Homo sapiens: one gene and its partner. The protein of the gene in region 2 interacts with the protein of the main gene of each other region in a biochemical or structural test. Each region holds a gene or a part of one and is shown on either strand. Other genes may lie near its edges.

Evidence for each region.
Region 1: the proteins of CAMP (region 2) and F2 interact in a test that uses a peptide from one of them, tested with the Homo sapiens proteins (one study listed by BioGRID).

The regions. Positions count from the first base shown.
Region 1 is NC_000011.10:46,725,679-46,729,482, forward strand, and holds part of F2 (prothrombin preproprotein), read left to right. Parts: intron 1-180; coding exon 181-495; intron 496-819; coding exon 820-948; intron 949-1,032; coding exon 1,033-1,159; intron 1,160-2,317; coding exon 2,318-2,485; intron 2,486-2,985; coding exon 2,986-3,159; intron 3,160-3,701; coding exon 3,702-3,804. UniProt on the Homo sapiens protein: Thrombin, which cleaves bonds after Arg and Lys, converts fibrinogen to fibrin and activates factors V, VII, VIII, XIII, and, in complex with thrombomodulin, protein C. Functions in blood homeostasis, inflammation and wound healing.
Region 2 is NC_000003.12:48,221,914-48,226,178, reverse strand, and holds CAMP (cathelicidin antimicrobial peptide preproprotein), read right to left. Parts: upstream 2,685-4,265; 5' UTR 2,668-2,684; coding exon 2,467-2,667; intron 1,826-2,466; coding exon 1,718-1,825; intron 1,577-1,717; coding exon 1,505-1,576; intron 887-1,504; coding exon 755-886; 3' UTR 694-754; downstream 1-693. UniProt on the Homo sapiens protein: Antimicrobial protein that is an integral component of the innate immune system. Binds to bacterial lipopolysaccharides (LPS). Acts via neutrophil N-formyl peptide receptors to enhance the release of CXCL2.

The DNA of each region.
Region 1 (3,804 bases), on a different chromosome or scaffold from region 2:
CAAACCTGCAAAAGTGGCATTAGTAACCCCTTTAAAGGCAAACGGTCAGAAGCCCAGAGAGGTTAAGTAACCTGAGGTCACACAGGCAGAAAGCAGCAAGACCGGGGTTCACACCCCTGTCTGTTCCGGTCCATGTGTGGTCTCACTCACTCTGCTGCCTCCTTGCCCCTCACCCACCAGGCCAGGATCAAGTCACTGTAGCGATGACTCCACGCTCCGAAGGCTCCAGTGTGAATCTGTCACCTCCATTGGAGCAGTGTGTCCCTGATCGGGGGCAGCAGTACCAGGGGCGCCTGGCGGTGACCACACATGGGCTCCCCTGCCTGGCCTGGGCCAGCGCACAGGCCAAGGCCCTGAGCAAGCACCAGGACTTCAACTCAGCTGTGCAGCTGGTGGAGAACTTCTGCCGCAACCCAGACGGGGATGAGGAGGGCGTGTGGTGCTATGTGGCCGGGAAGCCTGGCGACTTTGGGTACTGCGACCTCAACTATTGTGGTGAGCTGCCTGGGTAGGGGGCCTGAGTTGCAGGGACAAATCCTGGTGGGAATAACAACAGCCGCTTCTGCTTATCGAACGCTTACCTCATTGAGTGCGCTCATTACAGCCTTACAGTAACCAGGTGGGGGGTAAGGTCCTGTGCCCATTTCACAGATAAGTACACTGAGGCCCCAGGAGGTTATTGCCTAGTAGCCCAACTGTGCATGCACGCTTAACCTCTGCACCAAATGGCCTCCAAGGCCCGTAGGGGAATTGGGGGGATCTAGGGGATGGGTGAGGAATGGCCCAGCCCAGTCCCAGCCGGTGCCTGGGTCCCAACAGAGGAGGCCGTGGAGGAGGAGACAGGAGATGGGCTGGATGAGGACTCAGACAGGGCCATCGAAGGGCGTACCGCCACCAGTGAGTACCAGACTTTCTTCAATCCGAGGACCTTTGGCTCGGGAGAGGCAGGTGAGGTAGTGGGCATCCGAGGGGATGCGGGGCTGCGGGGCTGGTGGCCAGGACTTGCCCCTCACTGCTTGGCTTGCTCTGCAGACTGTGGGCTGCGACCTCTGTTCGAGAAGAAGTCGCTGGAGGACAAAACCGAAAGAGAGCTCCTGGAATCCTACATCGACGGGCGCATTGTGGAGGGCTCGGATGCAGAGATCGGCATGTCACCTTGGTGTGTCCTGGAGCCCTGCGCTACCATTCACTCCTGGGGGCAGGTGTGCTGCTGGACCCCCACCCTCAGGCCCTGCCTGCAGGCCTGGGCTTTACAGATGACAACAGCTGAGCATCCAGGATCCCACCAACTCCACACAGCAGCCACATGAGATGGGTTGTTTACTTCTTTTTTTTTGTTTCTTAGATGGAGTCTTGCTCTGTCACCTAGGCTGGAGTGCAGTGCTGCAATCTCGGCTCACTACCTCGATCTCAGCTCACTGCAACTTCTGCCTTCCGGGTTCAAACGATTCTCTTGCCTCAGCCTCCTGAGTAGCTGAATTTACAGACATGCGCCACCACACCCGGCTAATTTTTGTATTTTAAGTAGAGACAGGGTTTCACCATGTTGGCCAGGCTGGTCTTGAACTCCTGACCTCAAGTGATCCACCTGCCTCAGCCTCCCAAAGTGCCGGGATTACAGGCATGAGCCACCACACCCGGCCCATGGGTCCTTTACTTCTAAGCAGATGGTAAAGCTGAGACTGACGGAGCTGGTGGCTCACCTCCGCGCACAGCTAATGGGTTTGAATCCAGTTCTTCTGATTCCAGAGCTGTGCTACGCTATGTGAACTCTGGACTGGAAGGACCTAGTTAGGGGGTGCAAAAAGCAGGAGGCAGGTCAGGTGCAGTGGCTCACCCCTGTAATCCCAGCACTTTGGGAGGCCAAGACAGGAAGATCACTTGAGGGCAGGAGTTCGAGGCCAGCCTGGGCAAAATGGTAAAACCCCGTCTCTACTAAAAATGCAAAAATTAGCCAGGTGTAGCAGCATGTCCCTGTAGTCCCAGCTACTAAGGAGGCTGAGGCGGGAGGATCGCCTGAGCCCAGGAGGCTGAGGCTTCAGTAAGCTGTGACTGTACCATTGCACTCCAGCCTGGGTGACAAGAGTGAGACCCTGTCTCAAAAATAAATAAATAAATAAATAAAAAAGTGTGAGGCAGCCCCTCAGCATCACACGGAGGCTCCAGGCCCCAAAGGCGGCCAGCCCAAGCTTGGATCTGGGCCCCGGAGGCAGCTCTGCCCAGCTGGGTTCTTAGACCTGGGATTGTTACTTCTAGGGCTGGTGTAGAGGCAGCCCCCTCATCCTCAGCTCCTAATGCTTCCTGCTGCCCCTCCCAGGCAGGTGATGCTTTTCCGGAAGAGTCCCCAGGAGCTGCTGTGTGGGGCCAGCCTCATCAGTGACCGCTGGGTCCTCACCGCCGCCCACTGCCTCCTGTACCCGCCCTGGGACAAGAACTTCACCGAGAATGACCTTCTGGTGCGCATTGGCAAGCACTCCCGCACCAGGTACAGAACTGGTGGCCCGTGGGTGTCTGGCAGGGGTCTGAGTCCTCCAAAGCGATCATGAGGGGCCCTGGTGGCTCCGGGACACATAGGATGTTCTGTATACCCCCCAGAATATAACATCCCAGCAGTCTCTGCTGGAAAGCCCATTTGGTCACGTCCTGACTGAGGCTTGGAGCTGCGGGGAGAAATCCGTCTGTCTCCTGGTCCCTCCAACACTAGGATATAGCCCATGTGGGAGTCTCTGAAAATAGAGTCTGTCTGGACTAGGGCGTGCAGCCTGTGCCCCTGTCCCCGTCCTCCAGGCTGTCTGACTCCAAAGCCCTGCACGGCTTTAGGCCCAGGAAGAAACACCCAGGGGGCTGCCATGGCAGGAACCAGCCCTATCCCCTCCCTGGTGGCCTGCAGGACACACTGTCTCCCAGACCCCAAGGGCAGGCAGTTTCCTGCTCCTTGCTGGGTGAACCTGCAGCTTCTCCATTTCTTTCTTGGGGTCTCTGCAGGTACGAGCGAAACATTGAAAAGATATCCATGTTGGAAAAGATCTACATCCACCCCAGGTACAACTGGCGGGAGAACCTGGACCGGGACATTGCCCTGATGAAGCTGAAGAAGCCTGTTGCCTTCAGTGACTACATTCACCCTGTGTGTCTGCCCGACAGGGAGACGGCAGCCAGGTGGGCCACCAGATGCTTGTTAGCTGAGGGGCAGAAGCCAAGTTCTGGGCCTGGCTCTGATACCAAGTAGCCTTGCAAGAGCCCCTTTCCCTTTTCCAGGCCTCGGTTTCTTGGAGTGAACCCAAAAGTTCTTTTCAGTACTGGCGTTTTATTTTTTATTTATATTTATTTATTTACTGACGGAGTTCCACTCTTGTCTCCCAGGCTGGAGTGTAGTTGTGCGATCTTGGCTCACTGCAACCCCACCTCCTGGGTTCAAGCGACTCTCCTGCCTCAGTCTCCTGAGTAGCTGGGATTACAGGCTAATTTTTGTATTTTTAGTAGAGACTGGTGGGTTTCACCGTGTCGGCCAGGTTGGTCTCGAACCCCTGACCTCAAGTGATTCACCCGCCTCGGCCTCCCAAAGTGCCGAGACCACAGGCGTGAACGTCTGTGCCCAGCCAGCTCTGGCGTTTTAGATTCTGGTCTCTAAGAAATGGCGTTGGGGCCAGGCGGCTCCTGTGGGGGTTGGCTCTCACTAGGCCCTTCTTCCTTCCCCAAAGCTTGCTCCAGGCTGGATACAAGGGGCGGGTGACAGGCTGGGGCAACCTGAAGGAGACGTGGACAGCCAACGTTGGTAAGGGGCAGCCCAGTGTCCTGCAGGTG
Region 2 (4,265 bases):
AGGCACGCACCACCATGCCCAGCTCATTTTTGTATTTTTAGTAGAGACAGGGTTTGTTATGTTGCCCAGGCTGGTCTCAAACTCTTGACCTCAAGCAATCCACCCGCCTCGCTTCCCAAAGTCCTGGCATTACAGGTGTGAGCCACCACGTCTGGCCATATTCTTGTTTTTAACAATCCCTAAACACAAGCTCACAAGTTAAATCTGCTACCCACCTGAAGAAACTGTGATGTGTCCCAATGCCAGAGGAAATGCCAGGAGTTATGGGCTTTCCTGAGTTAAGTCTTTTAGGAAGCATTGGAATTTTATGGGAATTGTACCTGCAGGGAGACCGCACCCAGTTGGCCAGCCACCCATGGGACTGGACCATGCTTCTCTGAGTGTTAACAACACGCTTGGCCCCTCCCTTGAATGTCACCTCCCCATGAGCAGGAACAGCTCCACAGCATTCCCCCACCACCACACACAGAGTAGAGCTCCTTAATTCCCCACTGGGGGTTCCACTGAGAATGGGAATGCCATCTTGGATCTCTTGGCCCTACTGCCTTACCCTGTGTCCTCCTGGATGGAACACTGCCCTCGCCACCTCTGTGTCACACTCACACACACTCACACTCACACGTGGACTCCCTGAGCTAAGGGCTCAGTTGTGGTGAGAGAGAGGAGGCAAAACAAGTGAGACTGAAGCCTGAGGAAATTGCTCTCATAGTTTATTTCTCAGAGCCCAGAAGCCTGAGCCAGGGTAGGGCACACACTAGGACTCTGTCCTGGGTACAAGATTCCGCAAAAAATCCTTGATTCTCTGGACAATTCTTTTAAACTCTTTGCCAATCTTCTCTTTAGATTTCCGGAAGAAATCACCCAGCAGGGCAAATCTCTTGTTATCCTGGGGTTGTGTACAGGAAGAAACAGGTTCCTTGTCGGGGATGTACCCAGGGTCAATCCAAGACCCCTCCCCACCTAGACGCCCCTCTTCGTGGGCCCCCGCAGGAGCTTTGGGGCCCCAGTTCAACCTCTGGCTGTGACCTTTGAAGCATGTGATTGAATCCCTACACCCAATAAAAAGATGAGAAAACAGAGTCCCGGAGATAGTGAGGGGCTCTGCAGGGTCACACAGCCCAGCCCAGCAACACTGAGATGGGAACACAGGGCTGAGAGCTGAGTACTCTTAGACAGTGGCTCTCAAACTTTACAGAAGCCGGAATCTCCTGGAAAGCTTATCAAAATACGAATTTCTGGGCCCTACCCAGAGTCTGTCTGAGTAGGTCTGAGTAGGGCCTGAGAATTTGCATATCTAACGAGTCCCCAGGAAGGGCTACACTTGGAGATCTACCGCTCTAAGGGATTCCAGAGCCGGCCCTGGAGATGGAACTCAGGTTTGGGGAAGAGCCCTGGGTAGGAGGGGCTTTCTCTGTCCTGGGTTGGGGGAGTAGTTAATTGACCCATTGGATGGTCCACACTCTATGCCCCCATCAGCCCCTGCATCCCAGAACAGCCCACTCACCTTATCACAACTGATGTCAAAGGAGCCCCTGGCCTGGTTGAGGGTCACTGTCCCCATACACCGCTTCACCAGCTGGAAAGGAGAAGCTCAAGGTCAAACTTGAAACCATTTGCCATGACCTCCCAGCCACATCCCAGTGGGAAATATTCCCCAGGTGCCCCCTGTTCAGCTCCTTGGGAGGCACCCACCAACACCCCCAGCCCCCAGCCTCACCCCGTCCTTCTTGAAGTCACAATCCTCTGGTGACTGCTGTGTCGTCCTGGGGCACACTGTCTCCTTCACTGTGAAGCTCACAGGCTTTGGCGTGTCTGGGTCCCCATCCTAGTCAGAGGAGGAAATGGGGAGGCCCATTCTTGTATTTTCTGATTTGTGTCCATGACCTCCCCACCAAGAGGGCAGGCTTTCCACAGTACCTGATGTGCGACGGGCACTGGGTGCTGGGCTTGGCACTGGGGCATTGAGGGGAGGAGGACTGAGCCATTCCTACCCTCCTAGGTGAACAGTGAGTAGGAGCAGACCTCAGATGAGCTCTAACAAGGAGCCCCTCCCACTCTGGGGTGGGGGCAAGGGAAGTCAGGGGGCTTCCTGGGGGACAAGACATGCCCACTGGAACCTAAAGTCTGGATAGAGTTCTTCCCTATGTGGGGTAACGTGGTACAGAAGAGACTTAAAGCAGAGGAGGTCACTGCCCAGAGCCAATGACCCCATTCTAGTGCCTGGAGCTCGCAGAAGTCCCAAAACCTGCGTGGGGTCGGGGTGAGGGTATCTCTGCCACAGCAGGAATTATAAGGCAGGAAGCTCTCGAGCTGGGAGGAGACACGAGCTCTAGAAGGTTCCCTGGAAAACACGGGACCACATTTAAAGGGGGAGATGCCCTCCTGGCAGGCAGTGCAGCAGGAGCAGAAGGAACAACACGTGGCCAAGCCCAGCCAGAGCAGAGCAGAATGTCCCCCAAAGCTCACCATCGTGGGCCTGGGGTCCAGGTCCAGGAGGCGGTAGAGGTTAGCATCCGAGGACCGCTGGTTGATGCCATCTATAGCACGAAGCACAGCTTCCTTGTAGCTGAGGACCTGGGCAATGATGGCCAGAGGCATCACCAGGCCCAGCAGCAGGAGCACCAGTGACCACCGCCCCAGGGAGTGGCCATCCCTTTGGGTCTTCATGGTCCCCATGTCTGCCTCCCTCTAGCCCACAGGAGCCTCCTTTATGCCCAGCCTGAGCCTGATGCAAAAGCCCAACCAGGAGCCTTCCTGATCCACCCATCCCTGGCTGCCTGCCAGGGTGTGGGCTGGGGTTTGCTTTAGCCCCTGGCTATTGCTTCACAGGACTTGCTGGGCAGTGAGTGAGGCCTTCCTTGTGTGCAAGATGAGGAAGTGGTTTCTTCATCTCTGACAACCTCCCAGACCTGACCGGAGATTGTCATAGCCAGGGGTGCTCAAGAGCGTTAAATCCCTCCAGAGAGGAAGAGAGCCAGGTGCCTATTCTACATCCTTCTACTCCTCAGGAGTCAGTATGATGGACTGCTAAATCTCCAGCTCTAGGCATTGCCTGGCACCCTGTAGGCATCGATTAAGAATTGATGAATGAGGCAGGGCACGGTGGCTCACGCCTATAATCCCAGCACTTTGGGAGGCCAAGGTGGGCGGATCACCTGAGATAAGGAGTTCGAGACAAGCTTGGCCAACATGGTGAAACCCCATCTCTACTAAAAATATGAAAATTAGCCACGCATGATGGCTCACACCTGTAGTCCCAGCTACAAGCTGAGGCATGAGAATCACTTGAACCCATTGAACCCGGGAAGCAGAAGTTGCAGTTAGCTGAGATCATGCCACTGCACTCCAGCCTGGGTAACAGAGTGAGACTCAGTATGAAAAAAAAAAAAAAGAACTGGTAAATGAAGACAGTAGCCACCCCCAACCTAGAGACTCACTCTTGCAAGGGACAAGTTGCCCTTTCAGTTCAAGGCCATACCACATGCTCTCTGGACCCAGCCGTCAGCCAGACGAAGGCTCTGCTCCATCTATCCCCTTCTGCATCCTTCTTCACTGTTTTTTTCAGTCTCAAAATGTTCCCAAGCCCCTCCAGACATGGCCTTTCACCATGGCTTCTCCCAAGCCAAGTCTTAGGAAAGGTTGTCTACGCTTCTTGACCCCATCTTTTCACTCTTCTTCATGCTGAAGGCCACTGAAGGCTGGCCAACCCACCCTTGGTCCATGGCCACCCTCAAGCCTGGTCTTTGTCTGCACAGGCACTGGTGAGCCTTCCTTCTTGCTGCCCCGGTCTCCCCTGATGCCACTCTCCTGCTGTCCCTCCTGCCTCCCTGGTGGCTCCTTCTTGGTCTCCCCTAAGGGCTGTCTTCTTAATATTGAGAGCGTGTGGGGTCACCTCCTGGGCTGCTTCTCTTCCCTGGCCTCGGGTTTCCCTGGGGACGCCCTCTCCCAGGACACCAGTTATAATAGGCAGACACCACCCAGTCTGTATCTCTGAGTTCGAGACTCCCATGAACGTCCCGGTTGTCCCCACTGGGCCTCCTTGACTGCTCTTCTGCTGAGTGCCCACTGCATGAGCCCTGAAGCACCTTTGGCTCCTTCCTCCCGAAAGCACTCCCCTCTGGCCTCTCCTTCCACCCCTGCCTGGCTCCTGCCGCCATCTTCTCTCCCATGCAATGCTGCCCCAGCCTCCAGACTCCACCTTCTCTAGGTTTCAGGCTCTCCCCAGACCACAGTCCACCCTCCACACCGTTGTCCAGGGGTTCCTT